Regions from separate parts of the Homo sapiens genome. Here all the other regions are reported to be linked to region 3. Evidence: microRNA targets listed by miRTarBase, many of them from high-throughput screens and not tested one by one. Region 3 holds a microRNA gene; each other region holds the end of a gene's coding sequence.
Evidence for each region. Region 3 holds the annotated microRNA hsa-miR-378c (ACUGGACUUGGAGUCAGAAGAGUGG, at 3,193-3,217, shown strand). A microRNA usually pairs through its seed, bases 2 to 8, with sites in the 3' UTR of a target mRNA and lowers its output. Matches are read on the target gene's strand: a 7mer-m8 pairs with bases 2 to 8, a 7mer-A1 pairs with bases 2 to 7 and ends in A, and an 8mer does both.

Region 1: the mRNA of SEC31A is a reported target of hsa-miR-378c. The part of its 3' UTR that is shown has no 7-base or 8-base seed match.
Region 2: miRTarBase lists ARGFX as a target of hsa-miR-378c. Seed matches in the 3' UTR shown: 7mer-A1 at 3,631-3,637.
Region 4: the mRNA of TGFB2 is a reported target of hsa-miR-378c. Seed matches in the 3' UTR shown: 7mer-m8 at 2,673-2,679.

What each region holds. Positions count from the first base shown.
Region 1 is chr4:82,814,753-82,820,393 of GRCh38, forward strand. SEC31A (SEC31 homolog A, COPII component) reads right to left here. Exons shown (of 27, transcript NM_001077207.4): 27 at 3,757-4,501. The coding sequence ends at 4,322. Among named protein-coding and RNA genes, the nearest start is that of SCD5, 19 kb to the left of the region's middle.
Region 2 is chr3:121,586,188-121,591,624 of GRCh38, reverse strand. ARGFX (arginine-fifty homeobox) reads right to left here. Exons shown (of 5, transcript NM_001012659.2): 5 at 1,003-5,437. The coding sequence ends at 5,025. LOC124906360 (small nucleolar RNA U13) reads right to left here and starts at 331; the gene lies at 231-331.
Region 3 is chr10:130,960,210-130,965,850 of GRCh38, reverse strand. MIR378C (microRNA 378c) reads left to right here and starts at 3,183; the gene lies at 3,183-3,263.
Region 4 is chr1:218,440,078-218,445,718 of GRCh38, reverse strand. TGFB2 (transforming growth factor beta 2) reads right to left here. Exons shown (of 7, transcript NM_003238.6): 7 at 1,100-4,515. The coding sequence ends at 4,357. It overlaps TGFB2-OT1 (TGFB2 overlapping transcript 1), which reads right to left and starts at 3,093. Exons shown (of 1, transcript NR_125715.1): 1 at 1,724-3,093.

The DNA of each region.
Region 1 (5,641 bases), not on the chromosome of region 3:
GAAGTCTCCACTGTGGCAGAAGAGTCAACAAATGGCTTCACATTCACTCTTAGGTGAATCCAAATATGGTCAGGTGTTAAGTGGTTATCAAAAACGTGTCATCCCTCCCTCCCCCACTTCTTTTGAGAGAGGATTTCTCTCTGTCATCCAGGCTGGAGTGCAGTGGCATGATCACAGCTCATTGCAGCCTCAACCTCCTGAGCTCAAGTGATCCTCCCACCTCAGCCTCTTGAGTAGCTGGAACTATAGGCATGTGCCACCATGACTGGCTAATTTAAAAAAATTTATTTTGTAGCGATGGGGTCTCATTATGTTGCACAAGCTGGTCTTGAACTCCTGGGCTCAAGCAATCCTCCTGCCTCAGCCTCACAAAATGTTGCAATTACAGGCATGAGCCATCAAAGTACATCTGGTCGCCAGGGATCCTATGGCATCTTCCTGTCCTCCAGGATACATGACAATTTTCTGAATCCAAAGAATATATAGGTTCACTGGACTCTCAACAGTTGGGTATAGAGCAGTTCTGTTCCCAACTTTTTCCTGCCCCACACTGCTCCAATGAACAACTACCTCCACTGACTCTATCTCTGATTACACATAATGATTCTCAAGTGCAGCCTAAGGGTACATCCATCCCATCAAACCCAAAGGGTGGTATAAAGAAGGGAGAAGAGGACCAGAAGTAATATAAAAAGCACCACCTCCAGAGACTCTGATACAGTTCCTGGCCAACACCCGGCCTCACCCACCAGCTTTCCTCACATTCCTTCCCTTGTTTTAAAATTAAGTAGGTTTTAAAAAAAAAGCACACATCATAAAAAGTAAATTGAACAGACCTGGCATTCAGAAAGCATTACTGGCCACTATATATGAAGTAATGACAAGGGTAGAAAATACAGCTCTAACTTTCCAAAATGTCACAACAAAGACTTGTATGATCCGTGAAATCTTTATATAAGAACAGCCTTAAACAGAGGTTCCTGAATTGTGCAGGCATATACTCTAATGCCATCCACGTTGAAAACATTAAAAATAGAATTATTTACAAAATCAAGTTGACTTTTTTTTCCATTTTTTAAAAAAGAAAACTTCTTAAAAGTTGTCTTTTCTGAAGAAAAACTTTCTCTAATTGCCTATTATCTTCATATTTCAGAGACAAAAACAATTTGAGTTTGGCTCATCTCACCTCCATTCATTTATATGAAACTCTTCCAAGATTATAAGCCACATAGAGAAATGGCTGCAAGTGGAAAAAAAAATCACAATGTAATGAAAAAGGAGAGAGCAGGTGCCCTGCTACCAGTGGCAGGTAGTTTTATACACTCATACTCATTTTTTTTTCTTTGAGATGGAGTCTTGCACTGTCGCCCAGACTGCAGTGCAGAGGCGCGATCTCTGCTCACTGCAAGCTCCGCCTCCTAGGTTCACGCCATTCTCCTGCCTCAGCCTCCAGAGTAGCTGGGACTACAGACACCTGCCACCACGCCCGGCTAATTTTTTGTATTTTTAGTAGAGGCGGGGTTTCACCATGTTAGTCAGATGGTCTCGATCTCCTGACCTCGTGATCTGCCCGCCTCAGCTTCCCAAAGTGCTGGGATTACAGGCGTGAGCCACCGCGCCCGGCCTATACACTCATATTCTTAAATAAATCTTTGGGTTGGCCAGGGCTCCACTGCCACCTACTCGTTTCTCATCTTTTGGAAAATAGTTTTTTTTTGGTAGAATGACACCAAATATGCCATTGTCATGTCAAGATAAACATGCAACTGCAAAACAAATTCTAACTATAAGGGTGATTAATTAAAAAAAAAAACTTGAAGCCAGTCCACTCTGCAGATGGTCTTGGGCTGATACTACTGTTCAGGGTCAAATCCAGAGGGTCACTTTGTCACTTCAACGAGTAGTGGAACTGACTCACACTATCTTTTTATTTTTATTTATTTATTTATTTTTGAGACGGAGTCTCGCTCTGTTGCCCAGGCTGGAGTGCAGTGGCACGATCTTGGCTCACTGCAATCTCCGCCTCCTGGGTTCAAGCAATTCTCTGCCTCAGCCTCCCGAGTAGCTGGGATTACAAGCGCCTGCCACCACTCCGGCTAATGTTTTTGTATTTTTAGTAGAGACGCGGTTTCACCATCTTGGCCAGGCTGGTCTTGAACTCCTGACCTCGAGATCCACCTGCCTTGGCCTCCCAAAGTGCTGGGATTACAGGCGTGTGACTCACACTATCAAGTGCATAGGAAACCAATGAGCTAGGTGACAATATATCCATTTATAAGTCTAGATAGTCCATTCCTGAGACTCCAACATATGTACATGCTATCAAGGTACTCTTTTTTTTTTTTTTCTTTCTTTTTTGGGACAGGGTGTCTGTCACCCAGGCTGGAGTGAAGTGGCACAATTACAGCTCACTGCAGCCTTGACCTCTGGGGCTCAAGGGATCCTCCCGCCTCAGCCTCCCAAGTAGCTGGGACCACAGGCATGTGTCACCACATCGGGCTAATTTTTTTTATTTTTAGTAGAGACACGGTCTCACTACAGCCCAGGCTAGTCTTGAACTCCTGGGCTCAAGTGATCCTCCTGCCTCTTCTCCCAAAGTGCAGGGATTACAGGTGTGAGCCACTGCACCCAGCCAGGGTAATTTTTTAAAATGCAGCATGTATTTGTTGAGTAGGGAATCTTGGCAAATAGAATCAAGAGGTTCTTGCAAACTATTTCACTCAGGCTGAAGAAAATTGACTTAACTTACTCCACAGTGTTTATTTTCTAGTTTTTTAACCCTCTTAAGGAATATTGCATAAACTATGAAAATTATTATCTAACTCTTCTCCAGATTCTACAGGGACCATTAATTTTTTGTTTACCACACTGTTCTTTTATTTATTTATTTATTTTGAGATGGAGGCTGTTGCCCAGGCTGGAGTGCAATGGTGCGATCTCGGTTCACTGCAACCTCCGCCTCCCAGGTTCAAGCGATTCTCCTGCCTCAGCCGCCCGAGTAGCTGGGATTACAGGCATGTGCCACCACGTCTGGCTGGCTAATTTTGTATTTTTAGTAGAGATGGGGTTCCTCCATGTTGGTCAGGCTGGTCTTGAACTCCTGACCTCAGGTCATCCGCCTGCCTTGGCCTCTGAAAGTGCTGGGATTACAGGCGTGAGCCACCGCGCCCGGCCTTACCACACTGTTCTTAAGACAGATGATAATAAAGTCACTTGACAGAAAAACTGGGTGCAAAATGTGTGGCTTTGATTTACAGGCTGACTGAAATTAAAGCTTTCTTTCTGAACTTAAACCTCAAAGCTACAGGTAATTTTTTTTTTTTTTTTTGAGAAAGAGTTTTGCTCTTATTGCCCAGACTGGACAGCAATGGCGTGATCTCGGCTCACCGCAACCTCCGCCTCCCGGGTTCAAGCAATTCTCCTGCCTCAGCCACCCAAGTAGCTGGGATTATAGGCATGCGCCACCACGCCCGGCTAATTCTGTACTTTTAGTAGAGACAGGGTTTCTCCATGTTGGCCAGTCTGGTCTCGAACTCCCGACCTCTGCCTGCTTCGGCCTCTCAAAGTGCTGGGATTACAAGCGTGAGCCACCATGCCTGGCACAGCTATAGGTAATTTAAACAAAATAGGTGAAAAAATTTCTAGCTATAAAATGGACACAATTTAGTCTTAAAACTCAAACAGAATATTGAAACATTTACAAATAGAAAAAAGCTCAATGCATTCTACAGAACAAAAATGTCCAGTCTTTTCCTATATAGTTAAAGCCAGTGATCCCATTTTTATTAATATCTGCTAAAACCCATGTAGCAGTTTGTAGATGTAGTTATTTACTCAGGAATCCTAAGACACAAAAAATAAACTAAATTTTAAGCAGCTGTTTCAAAAAAGACTATACACACATAAAATAGGATTACACACTTTAATCTGATTGACACTGAGGAAGTAGGGAGGACATGAAAGAAATTTAGTTTTAGCTCTGCTTTATGCATAACCAGATGCTCCTTTTCTAAAAAGTATATTGAGGTTTTAAAAAACACATTTATCAGAATACTTCAGGAAACCATACTATGTGTAATCCAGGAAATACACTATTTGCAGAATAGGAAAATCATCACTGGCAACAAAAGATTAAAACAAAAATAAAGCACCAGGGTTCTGAGCAGTTCTAAGGTGAGTATATCAGCAGAAATAGTGTAAATGCTCTTGACTGGTTGCTATGCAAACATGCTAATGAGGACTAGTCCATGTCTTATAATTTTTTTTTTTAACATGTTTCTTTGGAAAAATGGCAATATTGAGTGGAAGAGAAGCTGTCCTTTTAGACACCCAGCTTATTGGCCTGGGTGAGAACAACTTTGAGAACTGGCATGAAAGCAGAGGTCTCACTGAAGTTGCTGGTGCTAACTATGTGGGTATGCATGGTCAATCCTTCTGAGTAGTTTCGAGTTTCAATGCTCCTTGCAATGTTGTGTAAACCACTGGTGATTGTTGGTGAAAGCTGAAACAAAAGTGAACCAAGAGAAAGAATTAAATTAAGGGATAACTTCCCATGAGATCCTCCATAAACATTAAACCCAGATATTTAAGTGGAATTTGAAACAAACATTATAAAAATATATAAACCATTTAGCATTTCTAGAAAGTTTCTTGAACCAAGCAACAGTTATCAAGTACAACCACAACAAAATGATTTACATAAATAAGTTATTTATGAATTATACATGTATAAGCCAGGTATTTTCTTACAGAAAAGCAGCCCGATTTCCTCTCCAAACTGAAATGCTAATTTCTCTCTCCACTTAAGAGAGCTTCAGACCTTTAAAAAATTCTCCTATGCACAAAAAGGAGATTAAAGATTCTTAATCATAATATCTCAAAGGAAGGGCCCAAATTTACTAATTCTTACCTGCTTTTTATAATCCTGTCATCTCTTAAAACTATAAAACCTGTAGTTTTTTACTATGTCATTACTTGGCATAGGTGTCCATACTTTACAGAAGACTTTATTTGGATTTTTTTTTTTTGAGATGGAGTCTCACTCTGTCACCCAGGCTGGAGTACAGTGGTGCGATCTCGACTCACTGCAACCTCCGCCTCCCGGGTTCAAGCGATTCTCCTGCCTCAGCCTCCTGAGTAGCTAGGACTACAGCCGTGTGCCACCATGCCCAGCTAATTTTTGTATTTTTAGTAGAGACGGGGTTTTGCCATGTTGGCCAGGCTGGTCTCAAACTCCTGACCTCAGGTGATCTGCCCGCCTCAGCCTCCCAAAGTGCTGGGATTACAGGCGTGAGCCACCATGCCTGGCCTATTTTGATCTCATTTTTAAAAAATGTTTTAATATATACTCATCTAGATGTATACGCTAATTGTATCTTCTGTTTTTTTTTTTTTTTTTTGGAAATGCGGTCTTGCTATGTTGCCCAGGCTGGTCTCAAACTCCTGGGCTCCAGTGATCCTCCCGCATCAGCCTCCTCAGTAGCTGGGATTACAGGCATATCCCACTGTGCCCACCGAGAAGACTTTATTTTGGATCAGTCCAAGGACCACACTACTTCCACTGTTATATCAACTTTCTTTAGTTTGGTTCTCATGAGAGAAATGGTTATTTTCATCTGATGGAACTGAGTGTGGGGAATGG
Region 2 (5,437 bases), not on the chromosome of region 3:
TGAATCAAGAAAGAGTGTGGATCTTCATCAAATGCTTTTTCTGTGCCCAGCAAGATGATCATGTGGTTTTTGTCCTTTATTCTATTAATATCGTGTATTACATTGATGAATTTTTTTATGTTGAATCAATCTTCCATTCCTGAATAAACCCTACTTGGTCATGGTATCTATCCTTTTTATATGTTGCTAAATTTAGTTTGTTAGTATTTTATTGAGAATTTGTTTTTTCAAGTCAGATGCATAATGTGCCAATGTTGAAACAAGCTTCGAGGGTAGCACTCACACATCCACGTGAATGCCCAATCATCACATTCATGAACTACAAAAGGATCTTATTGAGGATTTTTGCGTCTATATTCAGAAGAGGTATTACAGGTTGAGTATCCCCAATCTGAAATCTGAATTCCAAAATGCTTTAAAATCCAAAATTATTTGAGTGCTGATGTGACACCACAAGAGGAAAGTTCCACACTTGGCCTCATATGGTGGGTCATAGTCAAAACGCACTCGAAACTTTGTTTCATCCACAGAGTTACTTAAAATATTGTGCAATTACCTTCAGGCTATGTATATAAGGTGTATATGAAACATAAATGAGTTGTGTTTAGGCTGGTGTCCCATCCCCAAGATATCTCATTATGTATGTGCAAATATTCCAAAAACTCCAAATCTGAAACGCTTCTGGTTCCAAGCATTTCCAATAGGGGATACTCACTATAATCTGTAGTTCCCTTATGGCGTCTTTGTTCAGCTTTGGTATCCAGATAATATCGATCTCATAAAATGAGTTCCCTCCTCTTTTGTTTTTTTTGGAAAAGTTTATGAAGGATTGGTGTTAATTCTTCTTTAAACATTTTGGTAGAATTTAGCAGTGAAGCCATCTGGGACTGGGCTTTTCTTTGTGGGAAGTTTTCAATTGTTAACTCAATCTCTGTGCTTGTTATAACTCTGTCTCAGTCTGTTTTTGTGTTGTTATAACAGAATACCTGAGACTGGGTAATTTATGAAGAGAGATTTATTTCTTACAGTTCTGAAGGCTGGGAAGTCTTCCAGTCTCAGACGGAAGATGGAGGGGCCACACCTGGCCAGGGCCTTCATGTTTCATCCTCCCATGGCAGAAGGAAGGGAGAGGAGGAGGTAAGAGAGAGAGAGAAAGATAGAGGTGGGGGTGGGGATAAAGATTTTGGGGAAGAAGAAGGCCGAACTCATCCTTTTATCAGGAACCCACTTCTGAGATAACTAACCCACTCCCACAATAATGGCATTAATCCATTCATGGGGGCTCTGCCTAGTAACCCTTAAAGGTCTCACCTCTCAAAGCTGTTGCTTTGGGGATTAAGTTTCCAACGCATGAGCTGTGGGGGACACATTCATACCATAGCAAGCTCTATTCACAACATCTATTTCTTGTGGAGTCAGATTTGGTATTCTGTGTCTTCCTAGGAATTTGTCCATTTCATTTATCTAATTTGTTGGCATTCAATTGTTCATAGTATTTCTTTCTAATAATTTTTATTTCTATAAGTTTGGTAATAAAATCTTGACTTTTGTTTCTGATTCTAGTAATTTGAGTCTTTTGAGGGGGTGGTCAATCTAGCTAAATGTTTGCCATTTTGTAGATCTTTTCAAAGAACCAGCTTTTGATTTCATAATTTTTTTTCTGTATTGCTTTTCTATTCTCTATTTCATTTATTTCTGTTCTAGGCTTTCCTTCTTTCTGCTTTCTTTGGACTGTTATTATCAATTATTGAGAATGTTCTATGAATATACCACATTATGACTATATATTAGTGAAGTTTTCTTAAGAATTTTAATTTTTGCTAAAATTTGCCTCATATATTTTTGGTATATGTTGTTAAGTATATTTAAGTTCAAAGTTATTATATATTTCAGGTTAGTTGTTCCTTTTGTTGTTGTCTAATATACTTCATTTCTAAAAAAACTGTTTTGGCCAGGTGAGGTAGCTCACACCTGTAATCTCAGCCCTTTGGGAGGCTGAGACGGGAGGATCACTTGAGCTCAGGAGTTTGAGGCCAGCCTGGGCAACATGGCAAAACCTGTCCCTACTAAAAATACAAAAATTAGCTGGGTGTGGTGGCGTACACCTGTAGTCCCAGCTACTTGGGAGGCTAAAGCAGGAGAATCATTTGACCCAGGAGGCGGAGGTTGCAGTGAGCCGAGATTGCACGGCCTGGGTGACAGAGCAAGACTCCATCTCAATAAAAAAGTTTTGCCTTGAAGTTTAATTTGACAGATATTGATAAAACTATGCCACTTCCTTCCTATGTAAAGCTACTTTTAAAAAATATGTATATAAGTATTTGAAGCTATAAATTTCCTTCTAAGCATTGATTTAGCTTCATCCCATGTTTTGGTTTGTTGTGCTTTTGTTTTTTTCAGTTAAAAGTGTTTTCCAATTTTACTCATGATTTCTTCTATTTATTTATTTATTGAGACAGTATCACTGTGTTGCTCAAGCTGGAGTGCAGTGGCACAGTCACAGCTCACTGCAGCCTCGACCTCTGTGGCTCAAGGGATGCTCTTACCTCAGCCTCTCGAGTAGCTGGGACCATGGGCTCTGGCCGTCATGCCCAGCTAATTTTTTATTTTTTGTAGACACAGGGTTTTGCCATGTTGCTCAGACTGTGATTACCTCTTTAACCACTGGTTATTTAGGAATGTGTTGTTTAATATCCACATATTTGTGAATTTCCCAAATTTTATTGATTTCTAATTTCGTTCCATCATGTTTGGAGAACACACTGCATAGTTTCAATCCTTGTGATTCTCCTGCCTCAGCCTCCCAAGTAGCTGGGACTACAGGTGTGTGCCACCATGCCCAGCTAATTTTTTTTTTTTTTTGTATTTTTAGTAGAGGCAGGATTTCACCATGTTGGCCAGGATGGTCTTGATCTCTTGACCTCGTGATCTGCCCGCCTTGGCCTCCCAACGTGCTGGGATTACAGGTGTGAGCCACTGCGCCTGGCCTATTCAAAACATTTTCTATGTCCTTTTTTAAGTTTTGAAGTTTTCTCCACAGAGGTATTAATTTTTTTGTGAATTTCTAGGTACTTTTACATTTTTCATTGAGAGGTACTTATCTTATGTTTCTTTTATTTTTTATTTTTTATTTTTTATTTTTTTTTTGAGACAGAGTCTTGCTCTGTTGTCCAGGCTGGAGTGCAGTGGTGCGACCTCAGCTCACTGCAACCTCCACCTCCCAGGTTCAAGCAATTCTCCTTCCTCAGCCTCCCGAGTAGCTGGGATTACAGGTGTGTGCCACCATGCCTGGCTTTTTTTTTTTTTTTTTTTTGTATTTTTAGTAGAGACGGGATTTCACCATGTTAGTCAGGCTGGTCTCAATCTCCTGACCTCGTGATCCGCCCGCCTCGGCCTCCCAAAGTGCTGGGATTACAGGCATGAGCCACCACCCCCAGCCCTTATGTTTCTTTATTACTGGTGTTCAGAAATGGTATTAATTTTGTAGGTTGATCATGTGGCTGGAAAATATGCTAACTTGTCATTCTAAAAGTTTGACTCTTTATTTTGTGAGTTTTGCAAGTTTATCATCTCACCTTCAAAAATCTGTTTTTATTTCTTCCTGTGATAGTTTTTACACCTCTTATTATGTCTGGACCATTGTACTATATATATATATATTATTTTTTCATTGTACTATATTAAAACTAGTGGTGACAGTAATTTCCCCTCAAATTAGGACTGAAAGTCTCATTTTAAAAAAACCCAAATTCAGCCTGGGCAACAAGGCGAAACCCCATCTCCACTAAAAATACAAAAATTAGCCAGACATGGTGGCGCATGTCTGTAGTCTCAGCTACTCAGAAGGCTGAGGTGGGAGGACTGTTTGAGCCCAGGAGGCAGAGGCTGCAGTGAGCCAAGATGGTGCCACTGCACTCCAGCCTGGGTGACAGAGTGCTGTCTACAAAAAACAAATAACAAACAAAAAATGAAAAATTGGAAACAAAATGTAAGTTTATAACTTTCTGTCATTAAAAGTGGATGATAGTGTACTCACTTCCACAACACATATACTAAAATCAGAATGATACAGAGAGAAAAGTGGATGATGGTTTCTTCGGTTTCCTTGAAAAAAAGTGTTTTTAAACTAGATAACCCAGCCGGGTGCGATGGTGCACTCCTGTATTCCTAGCACTTTGGGAGGCTGTGGCAGGTGGATGGCGTTAAGTCCAGGAGTTGGAGACCAGCCTGGGCAACATGGCAAAACCTCGTCTCTACAAAAAACACAAAAATTGGCCAGGCTCGGTGGCTCATGTCTGTAATCCCAGCACTTTGGGAGGTCAAGGCAGGCGGATCACTGGAGGTCAGGAGTTCAAGACCAGCCTGGGCAACGTGGTGAAACCCCGTCTCTACTAAAAATACAAAAGTTAGCCAGGCATGGTGGCACACGCCTGTAATCCCAGCTACTCAGGAGGCTGACACAGGAGAATCACTTGAACCCCAGGAGGTGGAGGTTGCACTGAGCTGAGATCCCGCCACTGCACTCCACCCTGGGTGACAGTGCGAGACTCAGTCTCAAAAAAAAAAAATTAGCCAGGTGTGGTGGCGAGCATCTGTAGTCCTAGCTACTCAGGAGGCTGAGGTGGGAGGATCACCTGAGCCCAGGAGGTCAAGGCTTTTGTGAGCCGTGACTGTACCACTGTATTCCAGCCTGGGTGACAGAATGAGAGCTAGTTTCAAAAAAATAAAAGTGGATAACCCCCAAAACCACTGTCCTACTTTTAGAAAATCCAAGATAGTTTTGGGAAGGGAATTTTGGAGTCTCATTGGCCATGAAAGGGACTAGGCAGGCTTCTCAGGGAGACTTGTGGGGCTGATTACGTAGTGCCCAGCTCTACTTGGAAAACTCTTTTTGCAACATTTACATGGAAATCAGAGACACAGACCCAGATGTTGGGTTAAAATGAGACAAAGGAAAAAAACAGTCATGTACAAGAGGCAAGAAGACCACTTTTCTAAATGATCTATATTTATTAGTACTCTGGTCAGAGAAATCCCAAGTCTACCATATTGGAGGTTTTCTGGAATTCCAGGCTATCTGTTAGACTGTAGGCTTCAAAGGCTTGGCTTGTCATATTGGGCCAGGTTTGTGCAGGAGATAGGCCTACAGCTGGACCAGCAAAGATGCTGAGAGAGGAACCCTGTCCTCCTACCTGGTACTTTGTGGGTGAGAGATACTGATACAGACAGTGGAAAGAAGAGCTGGATATCTCATTCTCATCAGGAAGATTGTACAGTTCTATGATTTGGAATATGTCATAGGCATCAGAGTACAAAGCAGGAACCGAGGCCACCAGCCTCTCCCACTGAGTATCTTGCATTTGGAAGTCACTGGTAGAACTCTCAGTGAAGGTAGAGTTCCATGCCCAATTGGAAGGGTCTAAGGGCTGAGATGGAA
Region 3 (5,641 bases):
CATGTTGGCCAGGCTGGTCTCGAACTCCTAGGATTACAGGCATGAGCCACCACTATGTAGAAGATACTTCAATCAAATAAGAGTAGATACCACCCTCACAGTTTGCAGGAGATTTAATTAAACATTACCACTTGATTCTATTAGTAACTCCAGATCTGCAAGGCAAATATTTCCAACTCACATTTTCCAGTGAATTCACTGAGCCAGGACTTGACCAGGACCTGTGTCTCTGGTCTCCTTGGTCAGTGTTTTCCTGCTGATGTCTCAGCTGTCTGCCATGAGAATGTCAGTCCCTTTCCAGGATGACACATCTCTGTGCAGTTGTACTAAGAGTTGAAAAGGATGAACTGGGGCTAGTTGCAGTGGCTCACGCCTATAATCTCAGCATTTTGGGAGAACAAGGCAGGTGAATCACCTGAGGTCAGCAGTTTGAGACCAGCCTGGCCAACATGATGAAACCCCTCTCTACTAAAAACACAAAAATTTGTTGGGCATGGTGGCAGGCGCCTGTAATTCCAGCTACTTGGGAGGCGAGGCAGGAGAATTGCTTGAACCTGGGAGGTGGAGGTTGCAGTGAGCCAAGATCGTGCCATTGCACTCCAGCCTGGGCAACAAGAGTGAAACTCCATCTCAAAAAAAGAAAAAAGAAAAGGAGGAATTGGATCAAGTAAATGAGTCATGGTACACGAAGAAAAGACCCAGACCCCAGGAGTTTGGTTTACAGGATGGGGACCTGGAGGCCAGCCTGCTGGGCGCCCTTCAAAGGGGCAGGTAGCTGGGTGCAGGGAAGGTCAGTGGGTTCGTGAGTCTCCTGGAAATGTTCCCTAGATGGATGGTAAGCTGCAGAACCATTTTCCCAGGAGTCCTCTAGATCCCGGGGTTAAGGTGCGGTGGGAAAGGTGCTCTTCAGCGGAAGCCCCCAGTACCCGGGCTCCACCTTCTCTTGTTTCTCTTCTTTCTTCTCCCTGGGACACTCGGGAGATGCAACGTGTTTCTGCTGGTTGGGAAAAGAGGTGAATTGGTTTTCTCCCAACTCCAACATAGAAAGTGTTGTTTTGACACTGTAGAAAATAGATAATTTCCGCTGATTTATTTCTGTCTCCTTCTGGGCCTGGCCGGCATGGGGGAAGCAGAGATGTACCTATTCAAATGACAAACATATCACCAAGATGGTGTGGTGCCCTGGCATTTCAGCATCCCAGAGCATCAGGCTGTGTTTCTGAAATAAATTCTGCCTTGACATGGTGCTAACTCTTTGTATTTATGGAGCACTTTTATTCCCAAAGTGTCTGTGAATATATCGTCTCCTTTCCTCCTCATGGGCTAATGCTTACAGACGTCTCCCCGGAGCATGGAGCCGCCAGGAAGGACAGATGGATGGTGGTCACGCTGAGGTGCGGCCCTCTGCCCCCTGCACTTTCCTACTCCTGGTTGTGAATCAGCAGGAGGAAACGCGGAAGGGCCTTCCTGGCGAGGCCAGCTGGGCTGTTCCCCGCAAGGCTTCCTTCTTCCTCACCGTGCATGCTCTCGCTGACTTAGTGGCTCTTTCTCCTGCAATCTCCAGCCCTCCCCTTGCCCAGTCTCACTCTGCAGGCTCCTACCTCTGCACTGGGCTGACGGGTAGTCCCCTTCATGTGACAAACATACTCCTTACCTAGGACCAGTACACCCAGCCTTTTCTGGTCCCCTAACAACTTCCAAGTCCCCCACTACCAATAGCCACATCCGAACTCACTTTTGGCTAGAGATCTGCATGGCCCATGGCCCAGTGAGGCTCCCTATTTTATAGCATTAGAGGGAAAGTGGCACCAGCCCTCTCCCCAGAGGAGTATCTCTCCTGGAGATGGGGGTCATCTCCCCGTTCTCCCTCCCTCCCTGGCTTCTCTGCATCACTGGGATCAGCCAGGGGACGGCTCCTCTTCAGTGGCCTGAGCTCCTGCCCATTCTGCCTCCTAGCCAGGCCTTCCTCTCCATGGCTGGCTCAGCCCTCGCAGGGCCTTCCCCCTCTTCTCTTGAGTCACTCAACTGCACCCTGGGTTGCCCCCCTTCAGTTCTACATTAAGGCTTCCTCTCTGGTTCCATCCATTGCCTTTGGTAACCTGGATTTCTGGTTGACTGGGAGACAATTCATCTTCTCTCTCTCTCTCTTTTTTTTTTTTTTTTTTTTTTTTTTTGAGACAGAGACAGAGTCTCGCTTTGTCCCCCAGGCTGGAGTCCAGTGGCGCCATCTTGGCTCACTGCAAGCTCCGCCTCCCGGGTTCACGCCATTCTCTTGCCTCAGCCTCCCGAGTAGCTGGGACTACAGGCACCTGCCACTACGCCCGGCTAATTTTTATTTTTATTTTACATTTTTTTTATGTTTATTTTTAGCAGAGACAGGTTTCACCGTGTTAGCCAGGATGGTCTCCATCTCCTGACCTCATGATCCGCCCGCCTCAGCCTCCCAAAGTGCTGAGTGAGCCACCGCGCCCTGCCGACAATTCATCTTCTAACCTAAACGTGTCCAAACTTAAAATAAATAACGCCCTTCATAGCTTCCTAGCTCTGCCTGGCCCAGCTGCCCGTCTGCCCAGAGCTGGAGGTGGGGATGTGGAGCCTTCTAGTCTTCTCTTCGCCCATGGATGGACCCTGCTGGGCCCTGCTGGGGACCCAAGGATCTTCTTTGCCAGCTGCTTCCTGGTGAAGGATGCTGCTAACAGCTCGCACCTGCAGCCTCCACCGAGGCTGCCCTGGGAGGCTGGAGCTGCCTTGCCTGAAGGCTTGTGGATGACAGGACACCCCAGCCCAACCAGGGTGGCCCAGAGCATTCAGGTAGGGCAGACGCCACAGCAATGTGGATGATCCAGGGTCCCCGCGGGGCAGATTGAGGCTGCCCTTGACCCTAAGCTGCATTCTTCAGCTTCCTCTCTTATTTTCACTGCTTCTCTCCCTCCGTCAAGGGTTTCTCCTGAGACACTGCCTTATGCGCTTGAACCAGAGCCCTTGTTTCCAGCTCTGCTTCTAGGGAAACCAGTCCCTCACATGAGGTCACCACGTGAGGTGGTCACTTCCCTCTGGGCTGCCCTGGGAGCTCCCGTCTCAGTGTACACGGCCACCCCTGAGCCTTACTGCTCCTCAGTGCAGGAGCCTCCCCTCCTGCTGTAGCTCCCAGGGCCACCCACGGAATCCTCCACCCTCCACTCGGAGGCCATCACTGGACTTGGAGTCAGAAGAGTGGAGTCGGGTCAGACTTCAACTCTGACTTTGAAGGTGGTGAGTGCCTCAAACTCAAACGTTCATGCATGGTGAGGATAAAAAGTAACTGCCCTGGGAGGATGAAACCAGGGAAGACAGCAAGTATGGAAAAGTGAGCACCGCAGATGCCACCATGCCACCAAGCACGAGTGATTTCATCTCTTGGTGGCCTCTCCTCCAAGACCAGCGGGGGTTCCCATTGCCGAGATCAGAGCCTCGGGCAAGGGTGAATGTTGGCTCCACTCACCCCGTGGGTACTCCCACTACTCAGCTTCCTGGCCCTCGAGGATGCCCAGGCCCATGGGTGCAGCATCAGCCAATGCTGTTTGCAACCAAGAGGTTCCAGTTCCCCCAGCTGCATTGAGAGGGGAGGAGCAGGTGTGCCCAGGAGAGGAGGACCCTGGTCTCAGGGAAGAGGGAGTGGTACTGGGGTCTCAGGAAGGGCTTGGAGGGACAGGACTGACACTCTGTCCGCAGAGATGTCAATGAGCACACAAAGGAGGCGAGATGAGGGAGCACAGAAGACAACCTCCAAGACGAGAGATGGGAGCTGAGGAAGCTGTGAACCTGCGAGGCACACAGAGATGGGGTAGAAGCTGCTCATGCTCATAGGAGGAGGGCAGATAGGAGGGGCCAAGGAGGGGCTCAGTGTCTGCCTCTGAATCTCAACCCCCCTTTCAAGGAAGGTGGTTATGCCCACATCCACTCATGCAAGGTGCCATGACAAAGTGCCTCTGTCTCCAGTGGGAGCAATCCTGGTATTCCAGCTCCACAGCCAGAGCACTGTGCAGAAAGACCCCCACCCCACCCCAGACTTTCTCTTCCCCGAGCTATCTGCACATGCACTGGTCTCTTCCTTGGGGGACTGCCTAAGGTATTTATCATCTAAGCTGCACCTGCATTTATCACATCCACTCACACTGGTTGTGACCCTCAAGACAGATTCTAAGTGTCTGGGTGTCTCCTGATAGGGTCTTTTGCATTGTCACCCACCTCCCAGATGTACCTCAAGATACACATGTTTAGTTAATTCTCACCATTGTGCTGATGGGCAAGCTGTGGCTCTCTCTACCTGAAATGAGAAACATGGGTTAGAAAGTGAATCAGTCTCACTGGGGTTTTCCAGAATTCCTGCCATTGCATCATGATGAAACGTGATGGGATTGTCATGTCTCACCTGGATTTTGAGAAATGATCATTGTCCAAATAAAGGAGCCAGCTAGAAAAGTGGACTGAGGTCACGACCAGGACAGGGACACTCTCAGACCTCTATTCTTGTATGTTCATGCCAACTCACATGGCTTCAGGGGAGAAACAGGGTGAAAACAGAGGCCTGCCCCTGGCACCCACCACTGACCAGCTCTGTAAAGACAACCAGGGTGGACAGATGCTGACTTGACTTGTGTCACATCTGCTGAAAGACAGAGATGAGCTATAAGGCCATGGCAAAGTCAAGTGCCATTACCAGCTAGCTGGGTCTGCTGGAAAGTTTGAGGTGCTCCCCAGCTTTAGAAATATAAAAATCAGATGATTAGCTTTGCCATGCATTCCCCCACTGATACCCCTGCTTCAGGATGTGGGAGGATCAGGTTTTGGGGGGACAGACTGTGTTCTGTGTGAACCCCTCAGAGAGAGGGGGCCCAGCTAAGGCCTCAATCGGAAGAAGAGGAAGTGGCTACACAGTGACATTGGGCCTCAGCAGAAGCTCAGAATCTGACTGAACTCCCGCCAAGGCCAAACGTGAGCATCACAAAGTGAGTCAAGGTAAGTGCATCATGCCACATGCCTTCCAGAAGATGGCATTGCCACCATCTGCCCCCAATACCCAGCCTTAGCCTCTGGGACAGAACCCGAGGACACAGTGCAAGAACAGGTCTTGGAGGCACAATTCTCGGCCACAGGCAAATTGGCTTTGAGGCTTTGGTCCACAGGCCACCACGTCTACTCCTGTTCCCACACAATCATCCCACGGGCACAGCATACCCTCTGCTCACCCCTCCTCCATGGGACCACTTTCAGGCAAATGTGTGCATATTCACAGGTACAGGTGACCGGGGTCCACCCATTTCTGTCGCTGAGGACACCCATCTGAGACCCGCACACAGTTGGTGCAGCCCCCCTTTTTAAGCAAATGAAAGGCTCTGAATGTGCAGATACATCCAGATTCCCTCTCCATAGCAGCATTCATTCCCCCACCTCAACAATCACAACCCGAAATATAGCAGAATGTCCACAACAAACTGAATTGAGGCTGCCAAGTTTTTGTCATTGTCATTCATCACATTAAAGCATCTACTATGAGTTGAGCTCTGACTTTTTGGAAATGCACAGATAAGATGTCCCTTGTCCACAGGGAGCTTTCATGAATGTGTAGGAGACAAGCTCCCTGGGCAGTAAGCAGCTCTGT
Region 4 (5,641 bases), not on the chromosome of region 3:
TCACATTAGCCATGTTTTGATTGCTCAATGGCCACATGTGGCTAGTGGCTAATATAATGGACAATGAAGTCCTGGACCCTTCACTTACAAGCTGAGTGGTCTTGGACAAGTAATTTAAGCATTCTGAGTCTGCTCACTTCCCTTTAAAATGGAGTTATATTCTTTTAAAAACCTACATCCTAGGATTAAATATGAGATTAAATAAATCAAAAGAGAACAGTGTCTGGTAGATGCTCAGAATACTGTAGTTATCAATACTGCATTATCATGTTAGGGAGTGGGTCATTCAACTAGCCACTGTTCTCTTTTACTTTGAATTTTCATTGGTGGACTTCAGTAAAGCTTAAAATGAACTTTTTCCCTATAATAACTTCTGTCAGTCCCGTAACCAAAAGGTTAACATATAGAGTTATAGAATATTCTCAGGAATTACTGATGTCCTGATCAATTTATGAGATAAGGGTCTGGAGGTTTTATACATTTAGTATCAAGATGGAGAAATATGAGCCCAGGTTATAGTCTGGAGGTTAAAAGTTCATTACAAGATTGCCAAGAAACCAAAAACAGAACAGGCTTGGAAATATTGTTAAGCCTGCCTGCCATTTACTCTGCCAATTACAGAAGAAACACTAAGCAAAGTACCTTTTCACGTGTCTATTCACTTAACTACAACAAGGGCACTAAAACACACAGACAAAACGCTATAGAGCAGGGATTGTCATCTTCATTTTAAAGAAACAGAGGCCCAGAGTTGCTGACAAATTTGCCAAAGTTGGTAAGGCTGTTAGGTGGCTCTTTTCATCTCTCTGATTCTATAATACCTTCTATTCTTACTCATCAATTAAATATAATGTGGGTTGGGGTGATAGCTCTGGGACTAGCCAGGCTGCACAGAAGCATGAACTAATGGGTTTAGAGTGACAAACTTCCTCTCTCTATGAGTTTACTATGAAAGATCAAACACAGATGAGACTGCAGAAAAGGGAACCATTTTCTCTTCTATCTCAATACTCGAATTGATGGTTTGTTTCTAGATGGTGTTTAGACAACACAACAGGCACACACTAGTTCTTTCACTAGACAAAGCAAGACAACCAGATTGAGTCACAATTACTTTTTTTATTAATCCTATTTATTAAGAGATTGGCAACTCGTTTGAGGAGTCTGGTCTTGTAGGTAGCAGCCAAAAAAATTGGAGGAAATAGGGTGGGTTTTTTTGTTTGTGGTGCAGTGGTACCAGTGAAACTGACAGGCAAGTAGCTGATCCCAAACAACCAACCCCAGAAAGCACGTGGCTCTTGTTATATCTGGCTGGCTCAGCAACTATCCAAGTTATGGGGCTACAGGGGATACTGTCTAGACCAGTTCTTTTGGCCCTGGCGTTGGCAGAACATAGAACCAGAAAGCCAAAGCATGGTGCAAACATCTCTCTGCATTTTTTCTGGTCGGCAGTCAAGCTGGATGGAAACTAAATCTCAAACAATTACCAAATAGCAATAAATAAGGGAATAAAAAGACGGCACAGGGATTTCTTCTATCCTTGATGGATATGGCCTGACTCTTGTGCTTTAAAGCATGACTTCTGAAGTGACTGTCCTTAAGGGAGAAAGCACAGAGGGCAATCGGAAAGGTGGTATGACTTTTCCAGCTTGAGATAGTCTTATTGCATCACAGGTGTTTTCTAGACTCGATGATGGTACTGATAGGAAAAAGACATCCACATATCATCGAAATAATTTATTTACCACTAGAGCACCACAAAAACAGACATACATCGTGTTAAAATACAGCGTAATTGGTCATCAAAATACAAAACAGCTAATCTTATATTCCATTTTTTAACCATGCCAACGATCAAATTGTACTGCTGATTAACACAAAAATAATTGCTGCCCACTTGCATACTAGCACTTCACCCCTTCCTTGCCACCTCCACCCCCCTCCCATGGCAATATTTACTTATGGGAAATAAAGACCTTACAGAACCCCCAAATTAAAAAAAAAAAAAACAGATTCAAGAGATCTTAAAATAGAGCATTTAAAATATTATCAGTGCATTCATGAGGAAAGACAAAATAATACAAAACAAAATGTCATCCTATCTGAGAGGAAAATGTCTGCAGAAATAAAAGTGATTTACACATAATAGAAAAGTGGAAGACAAAAAAATAATCAACACACACTCAAATCTGGGATTGGGTTACATCCAACACAAGGGCTGTTTACTATTATGGCATCCCATCTCTTGCTTTTCCAGTTTTCAAACTTGCAAATCCAATTCTTTAATTAATGGTCAGGAAATTCCAAAAAAGAAGTAGACCATATCAAACAACTTCACTTTGGATTCCCGCCTCCTTATGCTGCTCTTTAGGTGAAACTGCAAATATTCCATTGCTTTGCCTATTAATTTTTATTTTAAAGCTAAATAAGCGACAAGTGATAAACTGACATATTCTATTAACCCCAGCATGAGGATACCTCTTCTGCAATGATGTGGCAAATTATTTATTAAAGCAAGGTAAACTTTAGCCTCAGATATAGATAACTCTCACTCAGAGGAAAGAAAGAATTTTTTGATCATAGGAAAAATTGGCTTGTGCCTTTTCCCCTTCAAAGAACATTTATAAAAACCTTATAACTTCAGTGAAATACACAAAATGACTTATGCTGACCTGGACTTTTTTCCCCTTTTGAAAAATCGACTAAAATATATATCTTTCAATTTCCCCCTGAATATTAAAAACCTGACTAAAGAAAAAGATGTTTCCTATGAAGTGTCCTCTTTGTAATAACAATAGGATTTTACAAAAATATTGATTAAACCAAGGTAGAGAAACTTTTCTTAACTCAATAAAGATTCTGAGTTTTAGTTAGAACCCTAAATCCTTGCTAAAATGAAAACATTTTACTTCAATTTTCTATGTATCTATAACATTCCTCCTTTTCCTAACATAAAAATTTGTTAACGTCTGACTTGGTTAGTAATGATGCTTGGAAGATGAAGACCACTGAACTCGAACCCATCTTTTCTGTGAAACAAAAAAAAGAAAAGACAAGTGGACCCAGGTAGCTTATGTCATAATAATGAAAGAAACACAAAGCACAAGTAGGGCAAATGTTATTAAAAAAAAAATGCATTTGTAGTGCAAGTCAAACTATAGGGGCTTTACTCAAAAGTACTGGCCAGCTAAAAGAAACATACATTTGTGAGTGATCATTAAAAAGAGCCCAAATTTAAGTCAATCTAAATCATAGTTGACATTATTACAGAATATAAAAAATATGGTAAAAATTTACACATTACACATAAAGTAGTTAATGTTTTGATTTAATAGTTTGCAAAAGAGATCTGCAGATGTGTTTTCAATTATGCTGGCTTCTATATCCATCTATTTTAATAATATAGGTATGGTTACATATACCAAAACAAAGGAAAAAACCTATAGCATAGCTATACAGCAATATTTTAAGGTCTGAAGTTTGACCAGTACATGTCAAAACATTTCAACATTTCACTGGTTTACTAAACTGACAAAGAACCATTTACAATTAAAAAGAAAAAAAAAAACTTACAGACTTATTCTGACTGAAAGTTTCTTTTATTAACAGTCTTTTTAGTTTTTGGACCTTACAAGAAGCTTCCTTAGGCAGCTGATACATAACATGTGTTTTCAGGGTCTTTATCTTAATGCAGACTTTCTCGGTCATATAATAACTCACTTGGGTTTTCATCCCATTAATATGACCTCTTTTTTTCTGGCTCGTTTGAGTTCAAGTTCCTTAAGCCATCCATGAGTTTCTGGCAAAGTATTTGGTCTCCACTTTATACACCTGTTTTATTTTCCAAGGGCAATGAAACGTTCATTATATAGTAACACACAATAAATAACTCACTGTTAACTCTAAGAGTAAGAATGGGAAGGGTGCCTATTGCATAGCAATACAGAAAAATCAAGTGAGGCGCGGGATAGGAACGGTACGTACAGCAACTCCACTTAATGGGATTTTCCTGTTTGTTGTTGTTGTTGTTGTTGTCGTTGTTCACATAATTAACACTAATAAATTCTTCCAGTGTTTATTTTTTTCTTTAAAAAAAATTTGCTTCTTGTCTCTCTCACTTACAAAGTAGGTGAAATGTAGAATAAGGCCTTCAACTTTTTTTGTGTCAGATGCCAGTTTTAACAAACAGAACACAAACTTCCAAAGTGTCTGAACTAGTACCGCCTTTTCAAAAATTTTTTAACACTGATGAACCAAGGCTCTCTTATGTTTTCTTGTTACAAGCATCATCGTTGTCGTCGTCATCATCATTATCATCATCATTGTCATTTTGGTCTTGCCACTTTTCCAAGAATTTTAGCTGCATTTGCAAGACTTTACAATCATATTAGAAAGCTGTTCAATCTTGGGTGTTTTGCCAATGTAGTAGAGAATGGTTAGAGGTTCTAAATCTTGGGACACGCAGCAAGGAGAAGCAGATGCTTCTGGATTTATGGTATTATATAAGCTCAGGACCTGAAAGGACACAGGAGAGGAGAGACAACATAGGGAAAGACGGAAAATGAACGCAATTCGTTTTTAAAAAGAATTCCACATTGTTAGCAGTCACAGCACTGAGTAGGCAATTTAAAATTATTTTTGGTTGCTAATTTCCTAAATTACAGTCAAACTGATATGTGACCTTAGCAATCACCAAAGTCATTATTTTCCCACACGGAACTCGTTTTCCACACATCTTAAGCAAATGATTCTGTAAGAGTCAGATTGGAAAAAATTGCTCATTCAACAGATTTTCCCGGTTTTTCCAGTAAGTCTTTCCTCTGATCAGTGCTTGGCTGCACATACATCCTAGGTCCCCACAAAACTTGATCCTTATAGCATTTGGTCTTATTTCTACACTACTCTGTAAATGAAGTTGTTTCTTGAGTATACATTTCAATCCCATCTAGATTAAGAGCTCCCTCCAGATCAGGAACTCTACAGACTTTGCTTTTATCTTGTGGCCCTAGTAAGTCTTCTCTGGACAAAATGAGATTCATGTACTAAGTGAAGAAATGAATACATGAATAAGTAGAAGAATAAAAAGTTTTATCAAAGCTCTCATAAGAGCTTTAATCTACCTTTGGGTATAGAAAAAGACACCTGTATGCAATGTGAAATCTTTCTACAGGCTGGGCACGGTGGCTCACGCCTGTAATCCCAACACTTTGAAGGATCACTTGAGTGTAGGAGTTCAGGACCAGCTTGGACAACAGACCCAGACCCTGTTTCTTTAAATAAATAAATAAGGAAGGAAGGAAATGAAATCTTTCTACGTTAAGTGTCTCCTCAGGCCAATTTAAGGTATCCTCAATTTTCATTAAAAAAAAAAAAGCCTGTTTTTTTACCATTGCTTCATAAACACAGTGATGCTAGAAATGACATAAAAGTGATCTCTAAGATCTCCTATAAGAAATAATTATTCACTTTCTTACATTTTGCTTAAAACGATCATAATCATAATCACAATCATAATCAACCCTCCACTAACCTATGCGGTAAATGGTAGTTGCTGAGTTGGAGGAGTTAATGGCAAGTCTGAAAACAGAATGAAGAGACGGTTCTATAATTAGCCTTACACCTTCAACCCCATTCTGTATCA